Linked DNA regions of Homo sapiens. The protein of the gene in region 3 interacts with the protein of the main gene of each other region in a pairwise test. Each region holds a gene or a part of one and is shown on either strand. Other genes may lie near its edges.

Region 1 (2,668 bases), on a different chromosome or scaffold from region 3:
AATGGTGGCTGGGCATAGTAGCTCAAGTCTGTAATTCCAGCACTTTGAGAGGCTGAGGTGGGAGAATCGCTTGAGACCAGGAGTTGAAGATCAGCTTGGACAACATAGTAGACCCCATCTTTATTTAAAACAAACAAACAAACAAACACTCAAAATGGTTAGAAGTTAATGAGGATTACTTTCACGGGTATTCCAAAAATATATACACTGGTATCATTGAGAGTCTGCAAGTATTCCTAGTGTCATCCCACAAGAACGCACCTTCTGTCCTAGTCACTGCTCATATGCCATTTTGTTTCACAGGAATAGTATATAAAAATTTAATATATTACAAAATTGACATCAGAAATCAGAAACAGAAGGGAGATTTACTAAATACACAGTGATGGGGCTGCTGACCATCTAAAATAACTTAAATCCTTAATTTTCATTGGTGTATCTCAAATTTCAAGCATGCCATCTCTTTTCACAGGGAGAAAAAAGCCCATAACACTTGAAGGTTAACTTAATATATACTTATTTTAATATTTTTTATATTTTTATCAACATAAAATAGGTAAATATAGTTCACATACAATAATAAATGCTAAAACATTTACAAATTAAAATAAACATAAAACCAATAAAATGGAAATTAACCATCATTAACATAACAAATAATGCTGTTTTGCTCAAACAAAGTAGATCACAAGTATTTGGTTTAATAGCAAAAAGCTGTAGTTTCAGATCCCATTCTGTAAACTGAGTAGTTTTACTTTAATAATAATGTTGAGAATGCTTGTTCACATAAGTATCTTATTCAAACTGGTATTGATCAATTCAAGCCTTTCTTTCCTCTTTCAAGGTAATTAGAACATAATATTTTTCTTTCTTTTGAGACTGACTCTCGCTCTGTTGCTCAGGCTGGACTGCAGTGGTGCAATCTCAGCTCACTGCAACCTCTGCCTCCTGGGTTCAAGCGATTCTCCTGCCTCAGCCTCCTGAGTAGCTGGGACTACAGGTGTGTGCCACCACACCTGGCTAATTTTTGTATTTTTAGTAAAGACGAGGTTTTGCCACGTTGGCCAGGCTGGTCTTGAACTTCTGACCTCAATTGATCTACCCGCCTGAGCCTCCCAAAGTTCTTGGATTACAGGCGTGAGCCATTGCGCCCGGCCAAGAACAGAATATTAACCAAACCCATCAAATGGCAGTCATTAAATGCCAATTTTTAAATAGGTGTAAATTGATAGATTTTGAAGATTAACAATTACCTATTGTTAATCTTCATTGCCTAATGAAGTCATTGCCTAATGATGATTGAATCTAATTAGTTTTAGATTTAGAATGGAAACATTCTTTGCTATTTATTTGCTATCATACTTATTGCTAAGGAACTGCTGCAAGTTACTCTGTAGAGGAGACTTACAACACAATAGTACTGACTATTGCAGGACAGATGTTTTCTGAGTAATGTAAGATTCTGATCATCATGCCAAAAAACAACTCAGGTATATTACGTGTACAACAACAGCACACCATCATTTTTCTCATTTTCATATAATCTGTGTTCTGCAGCATCAATAGCTTTATTTTTTTTCAGATCAGATTTTAATTTTGAGTACTTAACACTATTGTTGACGTGCATTTCACTTTCTTCATGTTTACTAAGAATATGTGATAAATGTTGCCAATCTTTGCACCCATTTTCATTTTTCAGTTGATTTTTTCCTTCCCCAAAGAGTTTGCAATATAGACAAAACACAGAATCTTTTGAGGTTGAATAAAGTAACCAGGATCTAGTGGTTTTTTCACCATTTGGAAGAATCCGTGTATAATAAGTTTCTGAAAACTTCCTCCCTGTATTATCTTTTGGAAAGTTAAAATTTCTTACTTGAGGCGGAACATTTTCAACAAGAGTGTCCCGTTGTTTAATATTCAAAATTCGGGGCCACGTACCTGGATCTGCGGAAAGCACAACTGGTACAATGGAGTCTTCAAAATTTTTCTCTTCCAGTTGCTCTTGAAATGTATCAGCTATGGTTGACGTGGAAGAAGGAGGTAAATTCACATTCTCTTGGATCAGTAATGTATCCGTGCCACATTCTACTGAAAGCTGTAGCTGTGAAGTCTTTTCCTTTTTTTCTGGGATTCCCTCTATTTTTTTCAAAAGTGTATTTGACGATCCATATAATTGTTTCTCATTTTCTTCTCTAAAAGCATTCCTTTTTCTATTTTCTGATGCTGTTAATTTTTTTGATTTTGTTTCCATCATCTGAGGACAAAGAGGATTATAATTTTATTTTAGGTTAAACTTTTAAAAATTAATGTATATTCAAATGCTCAATAAGCACATGCTCATCATTAGGCATCAAAGAAATGCCAATCAAAAAGACGACGACGGTCGGGTGCGGTGGTTCATGCCTGTAATCCCAGCACTTTGGGAGGCCAAGGTGGATGGATCATTTGAGGTCAGGAGTTCGAGAACAAGTCTGGCCAATATGGTGAAACCCTGTCTCTACTAAAAATACAAAAATTAGCCGGGCCACAGTGGCATGCGCCTGTAATCCCAGCTCCTCTGGAGGCTGAGGCAGGAGAATCGCCTGAACCCAGGAGGCAGAGGTTGAGCTGAGCTGAGATCGCGCCACTGCACTCCAGTCTGGGCGAAAGAGTGAGACCCTGTCCCAAA
Region 2 (8,682 bases), on a different chromosome or scaffold from region 3:
ATAGGGACAAATGACATGGATGTTACTTCAAGCAAAAAATTTAAATGGCCAAGAAACAAGAAACATTTTATTTAAAAAGTGCTCAATTCAATGGACCATCAAGAAAATTAAAAACAAAACAAACATTTTTTAGAATTACATTCTCACTAGAAGTGCTAAATGTAAATAGGCTGACAACTTCAAGTGTTGGTGAGGGTGTAGAACAACTGGAATTCTCATACTCTGATAGTAGAAGTCAATATTAGCATAACTGCAAGGATAACTTTGTAATGGTGTAAAATAGAGCTGAACAAGCACATCCTACATAACTTAATTCCACCCTTACACATATTGCAGAATAGAAATAGATACAGATGTGTATTAAAATATAGCCGAAGAATACAAGAATATTCTGTACACTAATTCTAATAGATCCAAACTAGAAACAACCCAAAGGCTCATCAACAAAAGAATGTATAAATATATTTTGGTGTTTTAACCTTGAATATTATGTACACAAAAAATTAAAAGACTACTGGTACATATAACAATATGGAAAAATCACACATAATATTTAGTACAAGAAGACAGACACCAATGGGTAAATACTTTATAATTTCATTTTACAGTTCAAGAACATGCAAAAATTAGTTATGTATGTTATATGTTAACTAAAATCTCATTTAAAATGATGTTAAAAATAACAGTTCAACAAGATTAACAGTAGACATATGGCTGAGATAAAATTCAGGCTGAGCCAATGTGTGATTAGGGTAAGAGGCACAGAGAGGGCCGGGGAAAGGCTTCAAAAAATAGGGGATACAGATGTCACAAAATCAAAATATCCAGGAGAGCAAGCAAATAAGGCAAATAATGAACCAGAATGAAATTAACAACAGTGGCATGATCATGATAGTAAGTGGAACTGGCATTCTGCTTCATTGTCAGGAAGTCTCTAGGGCAAGATTGAACTGAGAACCAGAAGTGTGTGCCCTGTCTAAAGGGAACAGCTGGGAGTTACTGCGAGCTGCCTGCCAATCACTTTCTTGCACAGTGATACAGTTTCTAGCTTTTCTAGCTATTCCAGTTCCTCAAAAAGGTAAATATTCAGGCTTTTAAAACTTTATTTCCTTTTAATTAATGAAATATATGCCCCCACACATTTTAGGTTGAGTGAGAGAAAAAATGTATCTTTAATTGTTACATGTCCCATAGCTTATAACTTCTGGCAAATTCTGTGATAGTTCAGGACTGTTTTGTTCACCTCAGTATCTTTTGTGCCTGGCATATAGTATGCAAGCAGTACCTTTGTTTCTGAATAAATCAAAAGATTAATTAATGAACTCAAGACTGTGTTTTTGTAAAAGCAAGTATGAGTTTTCAAAACAGAGCTGAAGAACATACCGCTCTCGATGATGACCTATGCAAAAGGATGGATGACTGTAAAAAGCATATGTTTGGGGACCCATGTGTAAGTCAGGATCGCAGGAGCTTAGTTTTATTATTTGCAATATTGAGCAAAAGAGCATGAAGCCAGAGAGGTATGGGGGAGAAAGACAGTGAGGGAACTAGGTGTCATGCTAAGAGGTTTGAATATTTATCTTATGGGAATAGATTATAGGAAGCCATCAAAGGCGTAAGCAGAAACTTGGTTAGGTTTGCAATTAGAAAGAACATTCTGGTGGAAGTGTGTTCATGGGGTAGAGAGATAAGAGACATCACTCCTAATTTTTCCTTTTCAAAACAGCTTTCCCAAGGACTTTTTGGGTCTCTCAAGTACATAGGGTCAGAAGTCTAAAAAGCAGCTTAAGGAATAAACCATCAAACAATCCCTCTACTGTCAGGTAAGAATATATGGTTGAGTATCACTTGTCCAGCTCAGTCATCTTGCAAGCAATTGACGTTGGTTATTTCTGTGTTGAAATTAAGTCATGAAACACAAAGCGCTGAACCAGATTCTTAATTTGGACTTAATCGCATTTATTATAGTGCAAAACAAATACATTCTTCCCAGACCAGAGCAACATTGAATAGCATTGTAAACTAATTTTTTTGATGTCAAGGAAAGATGAAAACAAGATAAAACATGCGAGAGAAGCAGCTTGCATTAGATCAGGCACAGTAAAACTAAGAAACATCAGTTGCTACTAGCAAAGAAGCAAAAGTCCATGGAGTTTGAATTTTTGTTGTGGATGCTCAGAGTGATTATTCACTGGAACAAAGAAGCTGCTGGTTTCACAGTCCAGAGCAAGATGGACGACACGTGCTGAACACATGGGTCAGAGGTTGGCAACCACTGAACAGAGGCCCCAGAGGTCTGAGGCTGCTGGACACAACGTGAAGACTTTGAGGACGATAGGCCAAGCAACTCGAGGGTTGGCATCCAGAAGTGAGGAGGTTTTGGGGCTGGCAACTCTTGGACAAGCAGAATTGGGGGCGATAGGCATTGGGCACACAGTCTCCTATGGGCTGGTAACTATTGAGCAGCGGCCTCAGTGGACGACAGCCGCTGGACACATACCTCTGTGGTCTACAGGATACTGGAAGGCAGGAACTGGAGAAGAAAGAAGCAGGAAGAAAACTGCTTCCTTGGCAAGGCCTGGGCACGTAGTAAGCAGTGGAAGAACCGCAAGAGGTTTCAAGATTGCCGGTCTCACAGTGGACCGGCTGGCAGCTGGTTGGTTCACCGCAGGTCTCTTGGCAGTTGTCTGTGACCCAGGTATGGTCTTGAGAGCTAGTGGGTAAGTAGAGGACATCTCCACAGCTCACGCTGGTAGGGCAGAGGTCGATGGAGGTGAGAGGAATATGGCGGGAGGTTCTGAGAGATCCTGAGTTGGAGTTTCCCGAGCAGTAGTTGGGGCAAGACATAGTGAGGTTGTGAGAGCAGGCTGAAGTTGAGGCAAAGAAGTGAGTGTCTGAAGTTTGTTCTGCCCTTCCTTAGCTTGACCCTTTATTTATCCCTAGAAGGTGGTGCTTCTGCGTGCAGACTCTTCCTCTTGTTGTATGAAGATGCATCAGAACTCTTTATTATAGCCAAGGAAGTGAGGCTTCCACCCTCCATAAAACTGGATGCTCCTTGCAATGCCATCCATTGATTACGTCTATCTATAAACCAATGCGACTGAGTTTTAATAGGATCTATCCTTCTTAAATTATCCAAACAAAACAGACACATTTTAAAGCCTATGTGCTTATTCCAATTATAACCACCATTGCACAAACATTCTTAAGATTCCTCTCTTAGAATTGTCTTTGAAAGTTGTAGCAACTTCTTTGAAACAGTGAGAACTTACATCTTTTTGAAGAAAAATTCTATTCTTCTTGGAAATTGCCAGAAGTGAGTAACTTGGAACAAGTATAAGAGAAAATGAAAATCCTTGCAAACTATATGACAGAAATATGGACAATTTCAATATGTTTTGCTTGGTTAGAATTTATTTTTCTAAGTTGTGATTTGCTTTATTTCAGAATTCTATTCAGACTTGACTTTCTACCAAAATATCTTTATTCAAAAATATGTGCTCATTTTAGTCATTTCAATAAATAAATAAGCTGAGTGAAGCTGAAACCTTGGCTTATGTTTAAGATATTCTTGAATATAGATAATGAAGTTGGGCCAAGTTAAAATTATGTATCCTACTGTGAACAAAAGCAGAGAAGTAGACCTCTTAAAGAAAGTCAGGCATCTTGACATTTTTCATGATTATTTCAAGGTTATGTATTGCATGGTTTCTCATATTCCAACTGAAAAAATATTGTTCTTGGTTAAAAAATACACTGATTATGACATGAATTTATTTTGCTTTCTACATTGGCCTTGATGTCAATTTCCAAAAAGGAGCTTCTAAACTGCTTTACATAGGGAAAAGCATCAGGATAAATTATTGTTTTCCTAAGTTTTAGTACTTTAAAGGTCATTTGAGAATATGTATTTCTGGTAAAATTGTTTTAAAAAATGTATGATTTTAGTTAGTTTCAACTATCCCTCTATATTTTTCTCATACTGACATACCCAGTGGCTCCAGTAGCTATTTTAATGGGATTTTAAATTATCTGCTGGCTCTAAGTTCCAATTCCTTTTGGCTAGTCAATTTAAATCATAACACTTTCTTCTATTTTGGTGTTTGAGGGACATACTTGTGCTTATCCAGTCTCCCTCTGTCCTGGAGGAGTGAAATCTCTGAAACAGAAAGTTGGTTTCTCAATGAGACAACACTAGACTATTTTACTACTGGGGGAGAAATATAAAAATAAAATGGTATAATCCCGGAGGTCCTGTACTAACATGTTGAATTTATCTCAGTATTTTAGGTCAGACGATTTGTACCTGATGTATTTGAGAAAGCCCCACTCACTCCAACCCCCAACCCCAGGCCCTCATCACCTAATACTGTTTGTATAACCGGATACTTTGTATACTTCGGACATCACCTAATACTCTGTGTATACAGCTGCTAGAGTCTTCTTGTAAAATCCTGGTTGCATCAGCTGAATGGCGTTAGTAATAGGTACAGTCATATTTAGCTGAATGCTTATGAAATTGTATGTTGATCCTTTTTATGTCTGCTCTTCTCTAATATAAACAAGAGCCCAACATCTGTATCATTAGTACATCAATACGCTTGTGTGTATGTGTGGATAGATGTATATACTACATGTTCTATGTATACATGGATGGTTTTCCATGAAGAGAAGGGGTGTGGAATAAGAGGAAACTGGCATTCATGGAATGCCTACTCTGAAGAACCTTGTGCTGTGGGTGCCCACATGTGCCATTCACTTTGTCCTCACAATTCTATACAGTAGATCTTACTATTTCAAGTACTCATACGAGAAAACTTGAGCTTTAGAAAGTTGCAGTAATAGGTATTACGAAAAACATCTGAAAAAAGGCTCCTTGACTCCCCAAACAGTTTTTCTCTATCCAATATGGCATTACATAGAGATGCATTGATACTATCATTTAATAACCAATAACCGTGTGAATTGGGTAATTTGCATAATTGCTCTGCTCCCCAGTCACTATCAGTATAATTTTATGGAAATATTAATAGTATCTACTTTTCAGTGACATTTCAGGAATATATTGAGATGTCATTAAAAGTTAAAATAAACTGTAAAACGTTATACAAGAGTAATCTATTTTCTTGCTTTGGCGTTCTTAACCCATTCTGGAGAGTACGACCTTGGGTTTAATTTCTTTAGAGCACCACCATGAGTTTCTCGTGTGTGTGTGGGGGGGGGGGGGCGGTGGGGGGGTAAAATTGCAAAAATATCAACAGATCTTCAGAAAGTGAAGTACCCTGAATATAAGTTGTCCTTCATGTAATATAGGTTGAACTAAAATTATTTCATAGTGGCTGTGTCACTAATAGAGAATTGCTTATTTGGGCATAATACCAGGTACCTCATTAGCAGGATCCTATAAACTACATGTTTCAGACTTCTCTTCTGAGTTAAGAGCCCAGGGATAATCGGAGGAACTGGGCATCCTGTGTGATTTCCCAGATTTACCCATGGCGTTGCTTTTTTTTTTTTTTTTTTTTTTTTTTTAATAAACCATGGATCTTTGTCTCTCCTACTGTAGAAGGAGAATTCTGAGTTTCTCTGTCTTGGAGACAAAAAATCCCCAGAACATTTCAACAATAAAGTTGTGCCAATAAACAAGGTACTTTTAACTCATCCATTCAGCAAATATTATTGAGCATGTAGTATGTGCAAAACATTATGATAGATGCTGGCAATGGAACCAACATAAAATTGGTTTCTGCTCTCAGATGTACACTATCTGGTAAGCGTGATAAGACAGGTACATAACCCATGTCAGTGTTTACTAAGTTCCGTAAGTAATGTACAGAGAAGAGCAAACATAGTTCATTCACCTTACCAAAAATTTAACATTTGATATTAATTTTGAAAGATGGAAGGGGCTTTGGAGAAGAGGAAAACACTTTAGGCTATGGAAGAAGATGTCAAGGTAGAGAAAATGACAACATAGAGCTTCCCAGTGAAGGATTCTAAGAAGCAAACTCATATTCACATGTTGAAATTACTGGGGGAAGTAGTTAAGATATTGTTCTAAAGGTGTGGTGATCCAGTAATGTGTTTCAAGAAGAGAGTGCTGAGGTTAATTTGCAGCATAGATTGGAAAGTGGGAAAACCTGTTATGCTTTTCTCCCTTTATCTTCTAAAATTATATATTTCTTTCCATTTTTTTCTTTCTGTTATCATGGCAATGATTTAAGTTGGGCTTTTTTGTTCTCCTTCAGTGAATTTCCTACTGCCACCTTTGACTTCTGTCCCTATGGTCTTCTATTTTGCCTAAATAATGCATTTGAAATAATACTCATGAAATTAATTTCATCATATGATTCTCTTTCTCAAAAAAGTGGATGATTTCTCTTTGTCAACAGAGAATTGTTCTGACACTTGTCTGGCCCTTCTCTACTTCCCAGTAAAGATTCTCTCCTACTTTTTTGGGTTGCCTGTTAATATTTACTAGTTCTAATAGTTTTTTGGTGGAGTCTTTAGGGTTTCTAATGTATAGAATCGTGTCACATGCAAACAGAGACAATTTTACTTCGTTATGATTTGGGTGATTTTCTTTTTTTTTTTTTTTCTGACTAATTGCTCTGGCTAGGACTTCTAGTACTATATTGAATAGAAGTAGAAAGAGTGGGCATCCTTGTCTTGTTCCTGATCTAGGGAGAAAAGCTTTTAGGTTTTCACCATTGTGTGTTTCACCTGTGAGTCTGTCATATATGGACTTTGTTATGTTGAAGTATATTCCTTCTGTGCCTAATTTGTTAAAGTCTTTATCGTGAAAGTTTGTTGAATTCTGTCAAATGCTTTTTCTACATCCATAGGGATGATAACTTTTATCCTTCTTTCTGCTAATTTGGTGTATCACATTCATTGATATGCATGTGTTGAATCATCCTAGCCTCCCAGGAATAAAATTCACTTAATCATGTTGTATCATCCTTTGAATGTGCCATTGAATCCTGCTTACTAGTATTTTGTTGAGGACTTTTGCATCTATCTTAATCAGGCATATTGGCTTCCAGTTTATGTTTTCATTTCTGTTTTATCTTTTATTATCCTTGACCAACACTAGTATCAGGGTAATGCTGGTTTTGTAAAATAAATTTGGAAATGTTTAAAAAACAACAAGCCTTACTTCTACAAATCTTCCTAATTTTATAAAAAATTTTCTATTTGACTTTTTTCTGCTCTATTTTTTTTTCTTCTGCTGACTTTGGGCTTAGTTTGTTATTCTTTCTCTAACTTCTTGAGAAGTTAAGTTGTTTGAAATCTTTCTTTTTTCAGGTAGGTATTTTTTGCTGTAAACATCTTAAAATGGTTTTCGATGCATTCCAAAGTTTTGGAATGTTGTGCTTCCATTTTCATTGTCTCAATATTTTTTAATTTCTCTTTTGATTTTTTCTTTGATTTATTGGTTGTTCAGTAGTGTGTTGTTTAATTTTCACATATTTGTGAATTTTTCAATTTTCCTCTTGTTACTGATTTCTAGTTTGGTGGTTTAATATCATTATGGTTGGATGTTTAATATGATTTTAATTTCCCTAAGACTTTTTTGGGGGCTAACCCATAATCTATCCTGGATAATATTTAGTGTGTGCTAGAAAAGAATGTGTATTCTTCTCCTGTTGGATGAAATGTTTTGTATAAATCTGTTAGGTAAGTCTGCTGTTTCCTTTTTGATCTTCTGTCTGGGTGATGTATCCACTGTTGAAACCGGGGTATCAAAGTCTCCTGTGATTATCATACTACTGTCAATTTCTCCCCTCAGTTCTGTTAATATTTGTTTTTATATTTAGGTATTCCAATGTTGGGTGCATATGTATTTGTGATTGTTATATCCTCTTTATGAATGGACTCCTTTTTCATGATATAATGACCTTCTTTGTCCTTATGATAGTTTTTGGTGTAAAGACTATTTTGCACAGTAGAAGATCTAGCCACCACTGCTCTCATTTGGTTACCATTTTCATGGAATAACTTTCACTTTCAGCCTATGTGAGTTCTAAACTCTCAATTGAGTCTCTTGTAGACAGCATTTTAGTTGGATCTTTTAAAAAAATATATTCAGCCACCCTGTATTTTTTAAGTGGATATTTAAATCCATTTACATTTAAAGTAATTCTTGATTACTTTACTGCTGCCAAGAACTTACTACTGCCATTTTAATTGTTTTCTGTCTGTTTTGTGATTCCTTGTTCTTTTTGATTTGACGATTTTTTCTTAGTGGTATGCTTTGATTCTTTTAATTTTAATGTGTTTACAACAGCTTATTCTTGGTGATCACCATAAGGCTTACATAAAACATCTTCTAACTGTTTATTTTAAGCTGACAATAATTTCACTTTGATCACATACAGAAGTTCTACACTTCTTCCCCACACACACATATTTTGTTATTGATGTCATAATTACATCTTTTTATATTATGTATCTATTAACAAATTATTTTAGCTGTATTAGGGTTCTTCAGAGGATCAAAACTAATAGAATATATATAAATATATGAGGATATTTATTATGAAAATTGACTCACATGATTATGAAAGCCGAAAAGCTCCATCCATGCCATCTGCAAGATGGAGAACCAGAAAAGTCACTGGTGTAATTTAATATGAGTCCAAGGGCCTGAGAACCATGGAGGGTTGGGGAAGGGAGTGT
Region 3 (9,601 bases):
CAGAAGGACATACCATCAATTATCTTCAAAGCTGGAATTTTTTTCTTAATTAGGAGTGTGTCTGATGGAAGTCACTTCTAGCTACATAAAGAAGGTACAGTGTGAGGGGTCGGATGTAAAAACTGATCTATATTACAGCTTTCTTCTCCCATAATTAAAAAATTTAAACAAAGTCTTTAAATTCTATATGTCAGGCACTTTTCTAGGTGCTGCTGGGAATAGATAGTACCAGCTCACTGAAGCTAAGCACTGGTTCCTTTTACATTATTGCTGGTTTACACTTCTTGTAGGAAGGAGAAGGTAACAAATACATTGATTTATTGAAAGGTCTTTATTACTCTTAGGCTGCCAGAGCAAGCAAGATGGAATATTTACCATCTTGGTGAAGTAATTATACTTTAGAGTTGGCACATAGTAGGTATTTAATAAGTAGTTCCTGAATACCGAAAGCATTGCAGAAGGCATTGCAGAAGGCGAAGAGTTGGTTGTGTGGAGATTTCTGTTAATCACTGTCTTCACGAGAAGTCCATTGTGAGAACTGGCAGATAAAAAGCTAACTGTATTCTTATTTTGCATTAAGATAAGCATGGCATCCCTAGAGTGGAATGCAGTTCACTCTGTTCTGCATTGACCTTAGAGTGTTATATTTAGTTTTAATGACCCATTTCATTGAAGATTTATTAATAAAATATCTGTTGAGAGCATGGTGAGGGGTCTAGAGATATTAATTTAAGGACTAGTTAGATGGAAGGACCTAGCGTATTTATATGAAGAATAGTAGGGCATTAATATATAATATTCATATAATAGGATTCATGAAAACTTTTTTGAAGTACTTGAAGGGTTGATATGTTGGGGGAGTAGGTGAGTGCTTTCACATACCCCGAAAGAATAAAGAATAATTGCAGAGAAGTGTGGTGTTAATGAAATAACAGATTTAAGAGGAGGAAGCAGAAAGCTGCTAGTAGTAAGGCGGGAAGTTGAAACTAGAATGTGGCCAGTAGTAGTTTGTAGGATACCTTGAAAAGTCTCAAGAGATCATTTTCTTGGGGCAGGAGGAGGAAGGAGTTATGCTTGGAAAATGTTCAGCGATTATAGATAACATTCAGGAACATCTTGGCCTTGAGAAGAAGAGATATTAATCCATTATTTTTCCCTTTATTTAATAGCTGTTGAATGACTGTTGTCTGCTAGGCACTGTTGTAGACTCTGGGAATATGGAAAACATAATCGTTTACTTCCTACCATCAAGTGGAAAAGACAATAAAATGTTATAAATTTTTAATGTCTGGTAGTGTTAAGTGCTTTGAAGAAAAATAAAGCAGGATAAGAAGATAATGCCAGGGGAGCCATTTTAAATTAGATGGTTAGGAAAGATCTCTCTCAGTTAACACTTGATAAGGAATCTGAATCATATGAGGGGTATCAGAAAGGGTCAAGACAAAGGGAAAACTTGAAGTATGGGAATAGCAGGGGTGAGTGAAGAAGAGAGGTAGGAAATGAAGTTAAATACTTGGCCAGGGACTGGAGGCCAGATGATTTTATAGGTCTTGCTTTTTGGGATGAGAATGCATTGGAAGGTTTTGAACAGAATGATACTAGGTTTTACTTAACAGTGTTAACTCTGGTGTTCTGAGACTAGATTAAAAGTGGGCAAAGGTAAAAAGCAGGCAGACTGGTTAGGAGTCTTTTCCAGTCATTTAGGCAAGTGATGATGGTGGCTTGAATCAAGTTGATAGCAGTGAAGGTGCTGAAGTGGTTGGACCCCAGAGTTATTTTAAAGGCAGTGGCAACCATATTTTCTTGGCAGTTTGGATGTAAGGTTTGAGAGAGAGAGATCAACCAAGATTTTTTTGTCTTATACAACTCGAAGGAAGATAAAGAAGCCTCTAGGAGAGGCAGGTTTTAGGTGGAAGATCAGGAATTTATTTTTAGATATATTAAGAAAAATCTAAATGGTCATGTCAGATGAACAGTTAAATATGAGAAAAAATAATAGTAGACGTAAAATAAAAGCTTATTTTATTATCCCTACAGTAAAATAATGTTGCCTCCAGACCATTTTAACATAAATATGGTAACATGGGGATAATGAATCTTTTGGAGGCTAGAGTTTCTTAGCATCTAATAGTAGCTTTGCTCTCAACTTTTACGGTATGTTTTGTTGTTTAATTATCAAAACCACTTTTATCAGTCTTTCTCTAGAGTTGTATATATAGAACATCCTGGAGTCCACCATGAACGGACAGTTGGATCTAAGTGGGAAGCTAATCATCAAAGCTCAACTTGGGGAGGATATTCGGCGAATTCCTATTCATAATGAAGATATTACTTATGATGAATTAGTGCTAATGATGCAACGAGTTTTCAGAGGAAAACTTCTGAGTAATGATGAAGTAACAATAAAGTATAAAGATGAAGGTAAGAGTGTTTTTAAAGCTATTTTTTAAAGTCTTTTTAAAAAAAAAAAAAAAAAGACAGAGCCTCTGTTGCCCAGGCTGGAGTACAGTGGTGTGATCATAGCTCAGTGTCACCTCAAACTCCTGGGCTCAAGCAATCCTGCCTCGGCCTCCCAAAGTGCTGGGATTACAGGCATGAACTGCCATGCCTGACCTTAAAGTCTTAAGTATTGTATGTGTTATTTTGCCCATTTTTATTGGACTCTTTCCCATCCTCTCTTCACGGTAGTTGAGACCTCACTTTCTTGTATTGAATGTGATGTTCCTATAGTTACTATAATTCTCTCATCAGTTAAAATTAGCTAAGTGGGGCCGGGCGCAGCAGCTCATGCCTGTAATCCCAGCACTTTGGGAGACCGAGGTAGGCGGATCATTTGAGGTCAGGAGTTCAAGATCAGCCTGGCCAACATGGCGAAACCCTGTCTCTACTAAAAATACCAAAAATTAGCTGGGCGTGGTGGTGTGCGCCTGTAATCCCAACTACTCGGGAGGATGAGGCAGAGAATTACTTGAACCCGGGAGGTGGAGCTTACATTGAGCCAAGATCGTGCCACTGCACTCCAGCCTGGGTGACACAGCAAGACTCCGTCTCAAAAAAAAAAAAATAGCTAATTGGTTTATTAGAAGGGAATTTTAAGTGTTAGAACATTTTCACATACATTTTTTTTACAAGCATTATTTTCTCCTTTTGTCCATATAATTCTGGTTTCTTTTAGCTTAAAAAAATTTTTTTTCTATTCTTATTTCCCGAAATGAAAGGTTTTAGTATGTATTGAATGAAAAAGGATTTTATGGTCAACTAAGTAAGGGAAAGCTGGTTTAAACAAAGACAAAAGTGTTTCTTTATTGTAGGAGTTTTCAGATTATGTAATATGCTTATATACATTTTCAGAAGTTAGTAGTATGCAGTGTTCCCAGACTCATTTGTTGACAAAATTATCTTTATGGAAATAGGTTTTGAATGAAAAATGTTTCGGCAAACACACTGAGTAGAATTATAGTAGTAGACTGTATTTCCTATTCTTCAACCTGCCTTCTTTGTTAATATCTCTGCTGAAATTTTCTCTTTAGGTGGTTACCAGTGTTTTTTACTGTGGAACTTACTTGCAGTGTATTTAATCTTGACCTCACTGTTTAGCACTGCTACCCACACCATCCTTGTTTTTAAATACTTTTACCTCTTAACATCTCTGACACTGCTTAACCTAGTTTTCTTATCACTAACAGTTTTTTCTCTGTCTGTGTTAGGGTTGGGCTTAAAGTAATGCCAGCAGATATAATAGAAATCTTAAAATCTGAGTGGTTTAATAGTTGAGAAATCTTTCAGGGATCCAGGTTGAAAGAAGCTGTTACCTTCAACACATGGCTTATAAGCTCACCATAGGCATTGACATTGGCAAGCAGATGAGTGAAGACAGAGTATGAAGAATCATATGGGAGATTTTACTCACTAGGCCTGATGGTGTTGTATGTCATTTCTGCCCTTATGACATTGGTCAGTACCCAGTTACATGGCTTTGCTAAGATGCAAATGGGTTGGGAAGTATAGTCCCTGGCTGAGCAGCCACTTAGCACAACTTATACTGTGGAGGAGAAGTGTAAATCACTGGTGATCAGTTAAATTGACCATCTAGCTAAAGGTATAATTCTCCTTTGTTTTTGTGATGTGTAGTCTAAGAATACCCAAAACAAATTTTTGAGAGTTGCCCATGTTAAGAAACAATAAAGGATAGTACTTTTTTCCTGTTTTCTTATGCTTATCATACATTGATTTGCACCTCTGTGACTTTGAAATGTGTGTCTTAATTTGATCAGTGAATTTTTTTTTTTTTTGAGACAGGGTCTCACTCTCATCCAGGCTACAGTGCAGTGGCATGATTATAGCTCATCATAACCTTTAACTCCTGTCCCCAGGCAATACTGCCAACCCGGCCTCCCAAAGGCATAAGCCACCATGCCCAGCCTACAATTCAGATTTTTAACTTTTTTTTTTTTTTAGCAAAGTCCCAAGAGTACTTTTTTTTTTAAATTTTGTTTTAATTGACAAATAATAATTGTACATATTTATGGGGTACATAGTAATGTTTCATTACATATAATGGGATTAGATCAGGGTAATTCGCATATCCATCACCTCAAATATTTATTTCTTTGGGTTAGAAACATTCAATATTCTCCTTCTAGCTATTTGAAATTATATAATATGTTATTGTTAACTGTAGTCATCCTATAGTGCTATAGAACACTGGAACTACTTCTATCTAGTTGTACTTTTGTGTCTTTTAATAAATCTCTCCCTATCCCTCTTTTCCCCTACCCTTTGCAGCCTCTACTGTCATCTGTTCTGCTTTTTACTTGTATAAGATCAACTTTTTTTAGCTTCCACATATGAGAGAGAGCATGTGGTATCTTTTTAACTTAATGTCTTCCAGTTCCATCCATGTTGCTGTGAATGACAGGACTTCATTCTTTTTTATGGCTGAATTGTATTCCATTGTGTATATATACCATATTTTCTTTATCAGTTAATCTGTTGTTAGACACTTAGGTTGATTCCATATCTTGACTATTGTGAATAGTGCTGCAGTAAAATGTGAGTGCAGATTTCTCTTCAATATACTGGTTTCCTTTCCTTTAGTTAAATATTCAGTAGTGGCATCGCTGAATTGTGTGTTAGTTCGATTTATAGTTTTTTGAGGAACCTTCATACTGTTCTCCCTAGTGGCTGTACTGTTGACATTCCTACCAATAATGTGTAAGAGTTCCCTTTTCTCTTCATTCTTGCCAGCATTTGTTATTTATCTTTTTGATAATAACCATCCTAACTGGGGTGAACCTTGTTGTGGTCTTCATTTTCCTGATATGTGTGCATTTCCCTGATGATTTGTGATTTTGAGCATTTTTTCATATATTTATTGACCATTTCTATGTCTTTTTTTGAGAAATGTCTGTTCAGATCATTTGCCGATTTTAAAATCGGATTGATTGTTTTTTAGCTGTTGAGATGTTTGAGTTCCTTCTATATTCTGAATATTCATCCTCTGCCAGATGAGTAGTTGTATTTCCTCCCATTCTGTAAGTTCTCTTTTCACTCTTGATTGTTTCCTTTGCTGTGCAGAAAAGTTTTCCAGTTTGAGATAATCATATTTATTTTTGCTTTTATTGACTGCACTTTTGAGGTCTTATTCATGAAATCTTTTCCCGACCTATTAAAGAGGTTATCCTTTTCCTAATGAGTGGTCTTGTCAAAAGTCAGTTGGCTATAGATAACATGGATTATGTTCTTTTGTTCTATGTGTTCTATTGATCTATGTGTTTGTTCTCTTGGTCAATGGGTCTGTTTTTATGTCAGTTCTGTTGGTCTGTGGGTCCGTTTTTGTGCCAGTCCATGCTTATTACAGCTTTGTAGTATATTTTGAGGTCAGTAAGTGTGACACCTTCAGCTTTGTTCTTTGCTCAGTATTGCTTTGACTGTCTGGGGTTGTATGTAGTTCTGTACAAATTTTATGGTTTGTTTTTAAATTTTTATGAATAATTTTATTGGTAGTTTGATAGGGATTGAATTGAATCTGTAAATTGCTTTGAGTAATTTTGTCATTTTAACAATATTTGTTCTTATATAAGCATGGGATGTCATTACATATGTATGCTCTTTGGTTTCTTTCATCAGTGTTTTTTTTTTTTTTTGTAGAGGTTTTTCATCTTCTTGGTTAAACTGCTTCCTAGATATTTAAAAAAATTTTTGTAGCTGTGGTTAATGGGATTGCATTTTTTATTTTTTATTGTATGTGTATAGAAACACTACTTATTTTTGTGTACTTATTTTGTTTCTGGCAGCTTTATTGAATTCATTTATTGGTTCTAAGGGTTTTGGTAGAGTTTTTAGGTTTTTGTTTATATAAGATTATGTCATCTGCAAACAGGGACAGTTTGCTTCCTTCCCAATTTGGATACCTTTTATTTTTTTCTCTTGCATAATTGCTCTGGCTAGTACTTGCTTAACTGTCTTTTTTTTATTTTTTATTTTTTTGTCTTGAGACAGGGTCTTGCTCTGTCTCCCAAGCTGGAGCGCAGTGGTGTGATCATGGCTCATTGAAGCCTTGAACTCCTGGGCTCAAGCAGTCCTTGCAACTCAGCCTCCCGTGTAGCTGGGACTGCAGGCATGTGCCACTGCACTCAGCTTCTTATTCTTAATGTTTATCAAAATGGGGGTCTCACTGTGTTGCCCAGGCTGGTCCTGAACTCCTGGGCTCAAGCGATCCTCCTGCCTTGGCCTGCCAAAGTACTGAGATTACAGGCATGAGCCAGTGTGCCTGGCCTTTAACTGCCTTTTTTCCCACTTGAAGATGCTTTGCCTTTATCTCAAACTGACCTCATTGACTGGCTTTCTCTTAACTACTGTTTAGGGCAAAGGTCAGCAAACATTTTCTTTAATAGATCAGAGAGAATAAATATTGTAGCTTTGTGGGTCACATAAGGCCTCTGTCTCATCTTTTTTTTACAATGTAAAAACCATTTTTCATTCACAGACCTATAACAACACAGGGATTTTGTCCGTTGGTCACAGTTCATGGACCCTTAGCTTGAGGTGTCCTCGTTGTAGTTTGTCTTCCACATTTAGTTACAACTTTGTATTTCATGGTTTTTTTTTTTTTTTTTTTTTTTTTTGAGACAAAGTCTTGCTTTGTCGTTTAGGCTGGAGTACAGTGGGGTGATCTTGGCTCACTGCAGCCTCCACATCCCAGGTTCAAGTGATTCTCCTGCCTCGGCCTCCCAAGTAGCTGGAATTATAGGCACACACCACCACACTCGGCTGATTTTTGTATTTTTAGTAGAGACGGAGTTTCTCCATGTTGGCCAGGCTGGTCTCGAACTCCTGACCTCAGGTGATCCGCCCACCTCAGCCTCCCAAACTGCTGGGATTACAGGTGTGAGCCACCGCACTTGGCCAAAAAGTTTTTGATTGTTTTGATTTGTGTCCGTTAGATTCTGTTAGTAGAGTGGAGGGATGGCTTAGGTAAAGTTCCTGCCATCAGAGATACTCTGTTTCTGTTGTAGGATTCAGAAAAGAAAAAAAGAACAGGAAGTTTTCTTCTTTTACATACATACTTTATTTTCTTTAAAAAATGTGTTTATGAAAATTGAACATTAAACAAGTATGTTATGGGAAGTGGGTCTGGCTATAAGGAGCTAAAAACAGTTATAAAATTCTCAGTTTTGTCATCTTTGCCCAAAATAAATCCAACTAATTAGTGTTAAAGTAGGTGCAGCAGAGCATCCCAGAAGTAGTCTTGTGGCCTCCCCAGGACAGAACTCCTCCCCACCCAACTGTTTGTGAAGACACCCTGCAGAGGTCCCTGATGAACTCCTTGTCTCTGGCTGCTTTTCTGTTCTTGCTTTCTTTAGAGAATGTATTTTTCCCTTAGCCCTTTGAAAGCTTTTGAGACACACAGTTGGTATGCCAATTATAGCATTCTTTATCCCTGAGATCTGGGGGATTTCACGGTCATAAATACACACTGTTTTGAATATATAAATATTTTTCTGGGGAGAGTTGATTGTTTTCATCTTAATATCAAAATGGTCAGTGACCTGAAAGAATTTACTGTCTATCCATTCATTAAAGCAGTTTTGCAACAGTAGTGTTTTACTCTACCTATGATTAAGATTTGAACTTTGGGAAACTTTTTTATTTCTTGGTAAAAGATGTAAATTTTTTGGAATGAAAAGATTTCAGTCTAAACCAACAATTTATGATATTGCTCTCTATGAATCTCTTACTAGTGACTAATAAATATTAAGGCACTTAATGGATTCACTTTAGCTGTATTTTTTCATGTGGATATGTGTAAATACCTTGCCATAAGAGTAATAAGCAAAATTGATTTAGTATATTTTTGAACAAATGCATTTTTGCTAGACCTTTAAAGTTTAAGGTTTCTATGGGAGAGTCCAACTATGTTCTACAATCTACATTTTGGATTTTTAATTTTTACTAGTTTACTGCTTATACAAATCTGAAAATTTAAAAAATTAAAAAACAACCTTTTTTTTTTTTAAATTCCAGATGGAGATCTTATAACAATTTTTGATAGTTCTGACCTTTCCTTTGCAATTCAGTGCAGTAGGATACTGAAACTGACATTATTTGGTGAGTAGTAAACTTTCTAATGAATTTACTATTTTATTCATTGTATTTTAAAGATGTTTGGCTTTTTTCCTTTTAAAGACTCAGGTAAGCAATAACTTATTCAAATATTATTACATTTATTTGTGTTCAGGTAGTTGTTTTAGATTACTTGAAGCTTATGGCTGTGTATGTTTTTAAGAAAATGATAGAAGTTTAATTCAGTAAGAACAGAGTGTTAAGTATGTTTTTTTTGAAATCAGGTATAACTTAGGTATCCCTGGTGCAGTATTATAGTTTTAATTTAGCTGTATTAGAATTTTTAAATTGTAATTATCTTCCTTCACATTACAGTATGTTGTTACTTATTATCAGGGCTTAACATGTAAGTCTGATACTTGAAACCAGTAGTCGCCAACCTTTTTGCACTGGAAACTGGTTTCGTGTAAGACAGTTCTTCTATGGAAGGGGGCAGGAGAAGGTTTGGGGATGAAACTCTTCCACTTTGCATGTGCAATTCACAATAGGGTTCACACTCCTATGTGAATCTAATGCCACTGCTGAACTGACAGGAGGCGGAGCCCACCACTTAACCTCCTGCTGTGCTGCCCAGCCCGGTTTGGTTCCTAACAGGCCACAGAGTAGCACTGGGTTGGGGACCCTTGCTTTAGACAGTATTTCCCGAGGGGTACTTAAAGATTAAAAATAGTTCTGATAAAAACCAATAGAAGACTAATTTTAATCTTTTAGATTTTTTCTTTTAGATCTTAATAGATATGCAAGGCAGAACTCTTAAGGGACAAGATAGAAAAGATTACAGAGTTAAATGGTAGTGTGATTATGTGAAAAATAAAATGTGTACACTTTTTCCGGCTGTTTTGTTGTTTTGTTTAGCATTAATTTTATTTTTTTTTAATTTTGTTGCATGAAACTTAGAGTTCAGTGTGAAATATGATCATGGTCTATTGATTTAATTTGTATCTATTTCATCTCCATCTAGGAAGGATGAATATGA
Region 4 (9,654 bases), on a different chromosome or scaffold from region 3:
TGGGAGGCCAAGGCGGCTGAATCACCTTAGGTCAGGCGTTCAAAACTGGCCTGGCCAACATGGCGAAACCCCGTCTCTACTAAAAATTACAAAAATTAGCTGGGCATGCTGGGCGTGGTGGCTCAAGCCTGTAATCCCAGCACTTTAGGAGGCTGAGGTGGGCAGATCACCTGAGGTCGGGAGTTCGAGACCAGCCTGACCAAAATGGAGAAACTCCCACCTCTACTAAAAATACAAATTAGTCAGGCATGGTGGTACGTGCCTGTAATCCCGGCTACTCTGGAGGCTGAGGCAGAATCATTTGAACCTGAAAGGTGGAGGTTGCGGTGAGCCAAGATCGTGCCATTGCACTCCAGCACGGGCAACAACAGTGAAACTCTCTCTCAAAAAAAAAAAATTAGCTGGGCGTTGTGGTGGGCACCTGTAATCCCAGCTACTCGGGAGGCTGAGGCAGGGAGAACTGCCTGAACCCGGGAGGCTGAGGTTGCAGTGAGCCAAGATCGTGCCACTGCACTCAAGCCTGGGCAAAAGAGCAAGACTCCATCTCAAAAAAAAATAAAATAAAAAATAAATAAATAAATAAATAAATAAATAAATAAATAAATAAATTTGCCGGGCGCAACAGCTCATGCCTGTAATCCCAGTACTTTGGGAGGCTGAGGCAGGTGGATCACGAGGTCAGGAGTTCAAGATCAACCTGGCCAACATGGTGAAACCCCGTCTCAACTAAAAATACAAAAATTAGCTGGGCATGGTGGCACGTGCCTGTAATTCCAGCTACATGGGAGGCTGAGGCAGGAGAATTGCTTGAACCAGGACCTGGGAGGCAGAGGTTGCAGTGAGCCGAGATTGTGCCACTGCACTCCAGCCTGGGCTACAGAGGGAGACTGTCTCAAAACAAACAAACAGACGTAAGGATGGAATGAGATGTTATGTTTAGGTGAAGGGAGAAAAGAAATGGGAGAGGAAGAAGAAAGGGAAGAGAGAAGGGAGGTGGGAGGAAGGAGAAGGGAGGGGGCAGGAACATGACAGCAAGCTTTGTAAACTGCAAAGGCCATTGCTTCACTCCACTCCCATTCAAACCCAGTGTTCCAACCTGACCATTCTACTCACATTTTCAAAATGCCTTTCCTGCCTCAACTCCCAAAACCTTGCACATACCATTTCTACAGTCCAACCAAATACACTCCTGAAGTCAACCAGGACATCATCCAGCAGTCATCCAGTCAACTAGGACTGTTGATTCCCCAACCTGTCCACATATCCAAATCACTCCCATCCTTCAAAATGCAGCTCAAACCATCCCTTTGATAAAGTCTTCCCTCCTCAGAACACTGCAGTATTTGCCATAGTGTCCCAACCCCACCCCCAACACAAGTAGGTCCCGTGTGAGGCCTGGGAATCTGTGTTTTTTGTTTTGTTTTGTTTTGTTTTTTTTTTGAGACAGAATCTTGCTCTGTCGCCCAGACTGGAGTGCAGTGGCGCGATCTCAGCTCACTGCAACCTCTGCCTCCCGGGTTCAAGTGATTCTCCCACCTTAGCCTCCTGGGTACTGGGATTACAGGTGCGCAGCACCACACCCGGCTAATTTTCGTATTTTCAGTAGAGACAGGGTTTCACCATGTTGGTCAGGCTGGTCTCGAACTCCTGACCTCATGATCTGCCTGCCTCAGCCTCCCAAAGTGCTGGGATTACAAACGTGAGCTACCGTGCCCAGCCTGGGAATCTGTATTTTAAACAAGCTTCCCAGGGTGATTCTGATGGTTGGTGAAGGCTGAGAACCACTGTGTGTCACCATGGTTACCGTCGTCTTAATGAATTCCTTTTGCCTCCCCAGCTAAACTTGGGCAGATCAAGAGCCAGGCCTTGTTCAATCTCCCTCCATAAGCCCAAGGTCCTGGCCCTTATTAGGTACTCAACAAACACCTGCTCAGCAATGTCCATCTTCTTTTTCACTTTTGTTTAAAACTACCTTCTGTGCTGGGCACAGTGGCTCATGCCTGTAATCCCAGCACTTTGAGAGGCCAAGGCAGAAGAATTGCTTGAGGCCAGGAGTTCAAGACCAGCCTGGCTGACATAATGAGACCCCATCTGTAAATATAAAAATAAAATAAACAGCTTTTACCAAGGAGGCACTCCTGATGGATCCTTCTCCACTTCTATATCCTGAGTTCACTCAAGGCTTAGCTGCCCACTTTGCACTCTGCTTGTTTTCCAGACTCTGGGTCTGTGCCCATCATATGTGTGCCTCCCATGCGACAAGGACCATTGTCATTCCTTCCTCTCAACTTTCTGCCTGGGTCAGGAGTGACTTCTCCAAGATAAGAACTCAAGGTTGACACAACAGCTCGATAAACCTATTTTCTCACCCTAGCCTAGGGGAAGTGGGAGAGAAAAGAAATCAGAGGCCCAACTTAGGAAGTCCTTCCCTGACTGTCTCAGTAGTCTTTAACTGATCTGTTGTCCAGGTGGCTACCCAGGACAAACTGGGCTCATACAAAAGCTGAGAAGGGTGCTGTGGAGAACGCCAGTGTTTCAGGGGACCTTGCTTTGCATCTCCCCATGCAACACCAACATTAGCAGATTGGCTGCTCCAGCTCTAGAATCTCGAGAAGTCTTGAGCCCACCTTTGACATTTAGACACCTGTGTTGGAAACAGCAAGGCTGGGGAAAAGAGTGGCAAGATACTACTTTCATTGTTCCATAACTTCAAAGCCTGATCTCATAGCAAGAGCCACAGGCTGGAAGTCAATTGATTTGAATTCTACTCCTGTTTCATCTCTAAGAAGGTTCTCTTGAGCAACTCATTTAACTCTCTTCTCTATGGAAAATCACATACTCCATCCAACCTACCACCTGTTAACTCATTTTTTTTTTCAATACTTATGAGTCTCTTACATGACAGGCACTGCAGCAGTCTCTTGATGAGGAAGAAATCCAAAAAGAGTAAAATGTAGGCCAGGCTTTCTGTAAGCTCATAATCTGCTGTGAGGGCAAATAAACAACTAACTGTAATACAGTGTGATGTGAGCTTTAATACCCGGAACAAAACACTAAGAGAACCCAAAGGAGGAACTTGTAAGTTCTACCCAAAGTCGCCCCAAGAGCCAGAGGCTTAAGAAATGTAGATATTTTATAAAATACGGTGTCATACTACATTAAGCACAAAGACAGCGGAGTTGGACCAAGCGATAAGGCTGACCACCAAGGGCCGACTTCAGACTGATGTCAGACTTCTCTGACATCAAATCCGGGAAGTGAGGAAGGAATCGAAATCACATATGCACTCCCCTGTCCTTTGGAGGCACTCCGGGAGTCCAGGGACAATAATAAATATCCTTAAACGAAATAATAATAATAATAATAATAATAATAAATAATAATAATAATAATAATAATAATAATAATAATAATAATAATGCATAGGCCGGGCGCGGTGGCTCACACCCGTAATCCGAGCACTTTGGGAGGCCGAGGCGGGCGGATCACGAGGTCAGGACTTCGAGACCAGCCTGACCAACATGGTGAAACCCAGTCTCTACTAAATACAAAAATTAGCTGGGCATGGTGGCGCGCGCCTGTAATCCCACCTACTCGGGAGGCTGAGGCAGAAGAATCGCTTGAACCCGGGAGGCGGAGGCTGCAGTGAGCTGAGATCGCGCCATTGCACTCCAGCCTGGAATTCAGAGCAAAATTCCGTCTCAGAAAAATAAATAAATAAACAATAATAATAATAAAGCATAAACTCAAAAAGACCATTTCATCTGGTTCCAAAGGGGCCGACTACTAAGGCACCATACAAAACCTCCGGGGGCGCCCGCTGGCTCCGGCCGACTGGAAAGCCTTGATCCTGCAGACCTCCCAGGCGGTTTCATAGGCTGGGCTCTCCCTGCACTGAGTCTTACCCCATACGGAGGGAGGGACCCCAAAATATAGAAATTCTAACCACCCTCTCGGCTCAGCCCCGACGACCCTGGGAGCCGTCAACTTGCCCCCACAGTCCCGGATTCCCAGCCCCCTACTTCCTCACCTGGTCCAGCTCCCCATCCCGTTTCCGGTTCCTTTCCCCCACCCCAAACCCAACCCCCGGCGCTAAGGACAGTGGGAGTCGTAGTCTACATTGTTTAGGGAAGGAGATTGGCGTACCCGCAGCCACTTCCGCCGGAAATGCTCCAATCCCGGAAGGCGCACTAAATTAGCCCTAAAGATCGCTGGGAATTGTAGTTTAATCTTTCCATCAGCGTTAAATCAGGAAGTCTTGAGAAGTGAAAAGCCACAGCCTGTAAGTACCTAGGAAATCCTGGGTTCTATCCCTAAAGGGCATCGCCCTTCCAAAAGTTCATTCACTATTTTCCCAAAGGGATTGCAAATCAGGAAGCTTCAACCATCCCCAATCCCTCACCCACCTGAAGGTATTAACAATAGCTAAAGACCATTGCTAGGCCCCCTGCCACCGTGGGTATAAGAGACTTCTCCTTTGCAGCCTGCCATTACTTATACAGAACATCCACGAAGACATTTCTGGTAGCTCCTAACAACTTTTTAGCAAGGGGCATCCCCCATTACTGTCCAAGCCCATCTCCAGAGTGTCACCATTTTGACTTCTTTCTCTGCCTTGCTATCTGCCCAACCCTATAACCTCAGTATTAGTCAAGAGTTTTCCAGAGAACAGAACTAACAGGATATCTATCTATATGACGAGATTTATTCCAAGAATTGGCTCACAGGATTGTGGAGGCCAAGAAGTCCCACAGTCTCCCGCTCTGCTGTCTATACACTGGAGAACCAGGAAAACAGGTGGTATAATTCAGGAAAGTCCAAAGCAGGGGAGGAGGCTCACTGCTAAGTCCCAGAGCCTGAAGGACGAAGAACCAGGAACTCCAATGATGTCCAAAGGCAGGTAAAATAGATGTCCCAGCTCATGAAGAAAGAGAATTTGCCTTCCTCCACTCTTTTGTTCTACTGGCCCCCAAGGGATTGGATGGTTCCCACCCATATTAATGAGGGTGATCTTCTTAGTCTACCAATTCAAATGCAAATCTCTTCCAGAAACACTCCACAGACATATCCAGAAATAATGTTTTACCAGCTATCTGGGTGTCCCTTAGACCACTCAAGTAGACACATAAAGTTAGCTATCACTCTTCCATCCAAATCTTCTCCCTCAAATACTTTGTCCAGGAAGGCTTCCCTGATCAATCCTCATCCCATGGCTGCACCTAACAGTCCATTCCCCCACCATTCCCCCATCCCAATATCTATGTCCAAATCTGTCCTATTCCTAGTTTTGTTCTTGTGCTCTATCTGGGTCTGGTTCTGTGTCGTGACTCTAAAACTTTCATTAGACTGGGAACCCCCTAAGGTTAGTTATCTTCTATATTCCTCCCACCCCACAATCTCCACACACCTTAGCACAGCCAAGGCTCTAATCACAGAAGCAAGGTCTCCCTGTGAGTGGTAGAAAAGGAGACCTATAAACCCCAGAACAGGAAGAAGTGAGAGAAAAAGGATGCTATTCCCTTCCCAGGACTTGTCTGATCTCCTATCAACAAAAACTTAATGGGTGCAGTAGGAGCTTCAGGGAGCTGTGAGCAGTGACCTGCTGACATCAAGGGTGAGAAACTACCCTGACCCTTGCAAGACTTTGGAAATGGAATTAATCATCCACCTCATGAAGCCCATAATTTCCTGAGCTTTAATTTTTACCAGATCCTCTCCCTCTCTGTGTCTCTCTCTGCCTATGTTATTTGCCCCTCTCTACTTATGTAAATTTATCTCTATTTCTAGTCTCTTGTGTAGCTTTCTCTCTGTATCTGCAGGTCTCTGTCTCCCTCTGTGAACATCTCCCTGTTTCTGCTTCTTACCCTAGAATGACTGGAATAAGAGAATCTGAGCTTCTAGAACAAGTTCCCCCATCTCTGTGTGTCTATGTATTTCTGTGTTTCTGACCAAAAATAAGGTGAAGGGACCTCATTGTGGTGTCATCTCATTGCTTAAAAATTCCAGGATTTCCACCATCCCTTGGACAACCCTCCTGTCCACCCCGACCCCTCTGTCACTTGCTTGCCCAGCACTTCTGTTCTAGTTTGTCATCTTGGCAGCCCCTCCACATTCAAAGTCTGCTTCTGGCAGAACAATAATGAGTGAAATGAGTAACAGGCAAGCAGAGATCCCCCAGGACCTCCACCTCCCCACCCCTGATTTCAATTTCCTAGAAGACTTGAATAACTGTTTCTGTCCCTATAAGCCCATCCACCCCAGGGAACCCAGAGATAGGAAGTCCAGATATAAGGAGAAACTGAGGCTTAGGCAGCCCACAGTGAGTCCCTACAGCCAATGTCAGAGGGGCCTGGGGCCTTCTCTCTCTCTAGTCCATGCTATTCCTCCCCGCCCAGTGAGTCACTCCCAGGAAAGATGGAGGTGAGGCGCTCTCCTGAAGTAGGCGTGCTTAGAAACAGGGACCCTGAGGCTTTCAAGAGATAGAGCCCAAGAGATGAAACATGGGCTTGGGTGCAGCCCTTCCAACCAGTCTCTTCCATTTATTAGTCTTCATGTCTTCTGGGAAGTCTTCAGGAGGCTGCTGACTGTGATTTACGGGTAGAGCCTTGTGGGGCAGGAACAGAAGATGACCCAGGTTATCGCCTGGGTAAGAGCCTAGAGAGTTGAGTCACCGGTCCTGGGGCAGGGCTCCAGGCATACCCACCAGCCAGCCCCTCTGTCCTGAGCCCGGGAGGGAAGGGGTTAACCGGCTCACTTGTTTTTTTTTTTTTTTTTTTGTTTCCTCGGGCTGCTGGAGCTGTGTTGGGCCATGAGCGCCATCTATCGGCCTCTTTGGGTCCTAGCTCCGACTCTGCTCACTTGGGCTGCTAGGCGGATCTTTCAGCCTTTCCCTTGCCTCGCCGCTTCTCACGGGGAAGGGCTGTCTAGCTGCGGGGCCTCCCACTGCACAAAACAAAGGTCGGGAATTGGAGAAGGTGAAGGCCATGTTTCCCCCTTCATAGATACTAAGTTTCACCCTGTTCAGCTCCCACTCACTGTTTCTGACATGGGGAGCCCCAAAGGGGGTTCTGGTGTTTAACTTTCAGTGTAGCCACCTTCCCCACTTCCACTACACTGGGTCCTGTCCCGATTAGCCCAACAAACATCAAAAGAGCATAGGACAGTGAAGACAGCATAGCAGAGGCCTCAGGACTTTGGGCTCTGGAATCAGACTGCTGCGTTTGAATCCAAGCTCTGCCACTTACTCATGGTGACCTTGGGCATGCTACTTAATTTCTCTGTGCCTCAGTTATCTCAGTTGTAAAATGGGATAATCATTGTAATCTCTATCTTCTTTTGTGATGTTTAAATGACTTAATTACATTAAGTGCTTATTACAGAATTTGGGCTCCACAAAGGGTAGTTATTGCTGTTGCTCTGCCAGGGTCTCAGGCAGATGATAGTCTGAGTACCCAAGACCCAGTCCATGAAGCCCTATCAGACACACAAGCACGGAGGACAAGACTGGGGAGCTCATCCTGTAGATTTCCCAAAGACAGTGACCTGCATGCAGGGTTAGGTTTGGAGTTGGAAGTTCAGGATTGCAAGGAAAGTAACTCTTCAGGTCTCCAAGGTCAGCAGAAGTTGGGATAAGGAGGTCACAGCAAGAAAGAACCTGAAGTAAAGATGTAGGAAGGAAATGCATTAAGGAAGAAGCATTAACAGGCCCTTTAAAGGGCCCTGATTTGGGGAAGGGAAAAGGGCTCCTTGATGTGTGAGTTAAGCAAGGGCCACTGCATCCCAAGGACATGTCCTTGGCACAGATGCAAAAGTCTCCAGACTTGATCAGATTCCCCATGCCTCCCCATTCCATCTGTGGGGACTTAACACTCCATGTCTTTTCCTCAGCCTAGTGAGGAGGGGCACTTACAAAGAGAGAAAGCTATCTGCAGGGCCCACAACCAGAGGAGCTAGGCTGTGAGTTCATCCATTTGTGTCCTTTTTTTTTTTTTTTTTTTTTTTTTGAGACAGGGTCTCACTCTGGAATGCAGTGGCATGATCATGACTCACTGCACTCTCGACCTCCTAGGCTCAAGCAGTCCTCCCGCCTCAGCCTCTCCAGTAGCTGGGACTACAGGTGCGCACCACCACACCCAGCTAATTTAAAAATTTTTTTTGTAGAGACAGGGTCTTGCTATGTTGCTCAAGCTGGTCTTGAACTGCTGGGCTCAAGTGATCTTCCCACCTCGGCCTCCCAAAATGTTGGGATTATGGGTGTAAGCCACCGCACCTGCCTGATTTGTTTCTCAACAGGTTCAGCCATCTCGCTGTCTCTGTATCTTCTATATCTCTGCCTTCATCTACCTTACAAGAAATGGGATTATTCTCCAAGGGGTGAGAATAAGGTGACAAAGTGACACCCTCTCAGTTAAGACAGAAATGCAGAGCCAGTGGGGTCCCTGGCTCAGCCTCGCTACCCTGCTACGCACACCTCAGCCCCAAGGCAGCACAACCTAGCTTTATGGATTATGCCTACTTAACTGGAGGAAGATGACAGCGTCTAGGTCTCCTCAACTCTGGTGTCCTCCATCTCCTGGGGCCTGGACGCCTGGGTCCCCAAGAGAGGAGCAGGAATAGGCTGGATGGGCTGATTTGCATCACTTACTTGGGAAGCAATTATCGGAGGAGCTGTCAGCTCAGTGCAGCTCTCTCCTCACTAATCGGATTTCACCAGAGCCCGGGGCTTGGGGGGGCCGAGTAATTTGGCTTGATGCAGTGGTGGGAGATGTCAGGGCCAGGAGGCCGGACAATCTGTCTGAGTGGTGTTAGAGTTGTCCAGAGCAATTATCCTGAGGGACCACACAGACATCAGATAGACAGACAGACAAGGGAATGGGACTGATCCCCAAGTCCTTTAGCAGGAAGGATGGAAGTGAGACTTGGAGAATGGGAGGAGCATCTCCCACAGGTTGAACCAAATTGAGCAACTAGAAGAGGATCAAGATGAGTCTGAGAGAGTGGCCATGGGACCAAGTGGGAGGACGACCCAAGAATCCTAGCTTCCAGCCTACTCAACACCGAGGCCCAGCCCTGCCTTGCCCTGCACTCCCAGGGAACCAGTCACAGAGCAGGAACTTGAACCTAGGGTGATTCTTCTGAGCTCTGCTCCTTCCCCTGCAATGTTCCCAAAAGACAATTTCCTTGCCTCTGGCCCTGGCTCTGTCATTTGCCTTCTCTTGCTCCTGCAGCCCTCTTGAACCTGTCCTTTCCTTCCCACCCATACTGCCCCTCTCATCTCTCTGGTGATCCCTCTCTCTGTCTCTGTCCTCCATTCCACATCTTTCAGAATAGTGGTAAGGGTGATAGTGACAATAACTAACCGTTAGTGAGTGCTTTGTCCACACCAGACACCACCCTGAGTGCTTTATGTGGATTGTTTCCTTTACTCCTCTCAGCAACACTTTGAGGGACATACTTTTTTTTTTCTTTTTTGAGACAGAGTTTTGCTCTGTCACCCAGGCTGGAGTGCAGTGGCACAATGTCGGCTCACTGCAACCTCCGCCTCCCAGGTTCAAGGGATTCTCCTGCCTCAGCCTCCTGAGTAGCTGGGATTACAGGCACCTGCCACCACGCCCGGCTAATTTTTATATTTTTAGAAGAGACAGGGTTTCACTA

What was found.
Region 1: the proteins of TFG (region 3) and ZMYM5 interact in binary tests that used the Homo sapiens proteins (3 or more experiments, as listed by UniProt).
Region 2: the proteins of TFG (region 3) and KRTAP26-1 interact in binary tests that used the Homo sapiens proteins (3 or more experiments, as listed by UniProt).
Region 4: the proteins of TFG (region 3) and SMUG1 interact in binary tests that used the Homo sapiens proteins (3 or more experiments, as listed by UniProt).

The regions. Positions count from the first base shown.
Region 1 is NC_000013.11:19,822,982-19,825,649, forward strand, and holds the end of ZMYM5 (zinc finger MYM-type protein 5), read right to left. Parts: intron 2,255-2,668; coding exon 1,496-2,254; 3' UTR 501-1,495; downstream 1-500. UniProt on the Homo sapiens protein: Functions as a transcriptional regulator.
Region 2 is NC_000021.9:30,317,189-30,325,870, forward strand, and holds KRTAP26-1 (keratin-associated protein 26-1), read right to left. Parts: upstream 3,128-8,682; 5' UTR 2,848-3,127; coding exon 2,215-2,847; 3' UTR 1,936-2,214; downstream 1-1,935. UniProt on the Homo sapiens protein: In the hair cortex, hair keratin intermediate filaments are embedded in an interfilamentous matrix, consisting of hair keratin-associated proteins (KRTAP), which are essential for the formation of a rigid and resistant hair shaft through their extensive disulfide bond cross-linking with abundant cysteine residues of hair keratins.
Region 3 is NC_000003.12:100,711,449-100,721,049, forward strand, and holds part of TFG (protein TFG), read left to right. Parts: intron 1-2,194; 5' UTR 2,195-2,237; coding exon 2,238-2,421; intron 2,422-8,526; coding exon 8,527-8,610; intron 8,611-9,601. UniProt on the Homo sapiens protein: Plays a role in the normal dynamic function of the endoplasmic reticulum (ER) and its associated microtubules. Required for secretory cargo traffic from the endoplasmic reticulum to the Golgi apparatus.
Region 4 is NC_000012.12:54,184,921-54,194,574, forward strand, and holds the start of SMUG1 (single-strand selective monofunctional uracil DNA glycosylase), read right to left. Parts: upstream 4,066-9,654; 5' UTR 4,031-4,065; exon of another isoform or gene 2,983-4,030; 5' UTR 2,899-2,982; intron 2,376-2,898; exon of another isoform or gene 2,126-2,375; intron 2,092-2,125; exon of another isoform or gene 1,973-2,091; intron 1-1,972.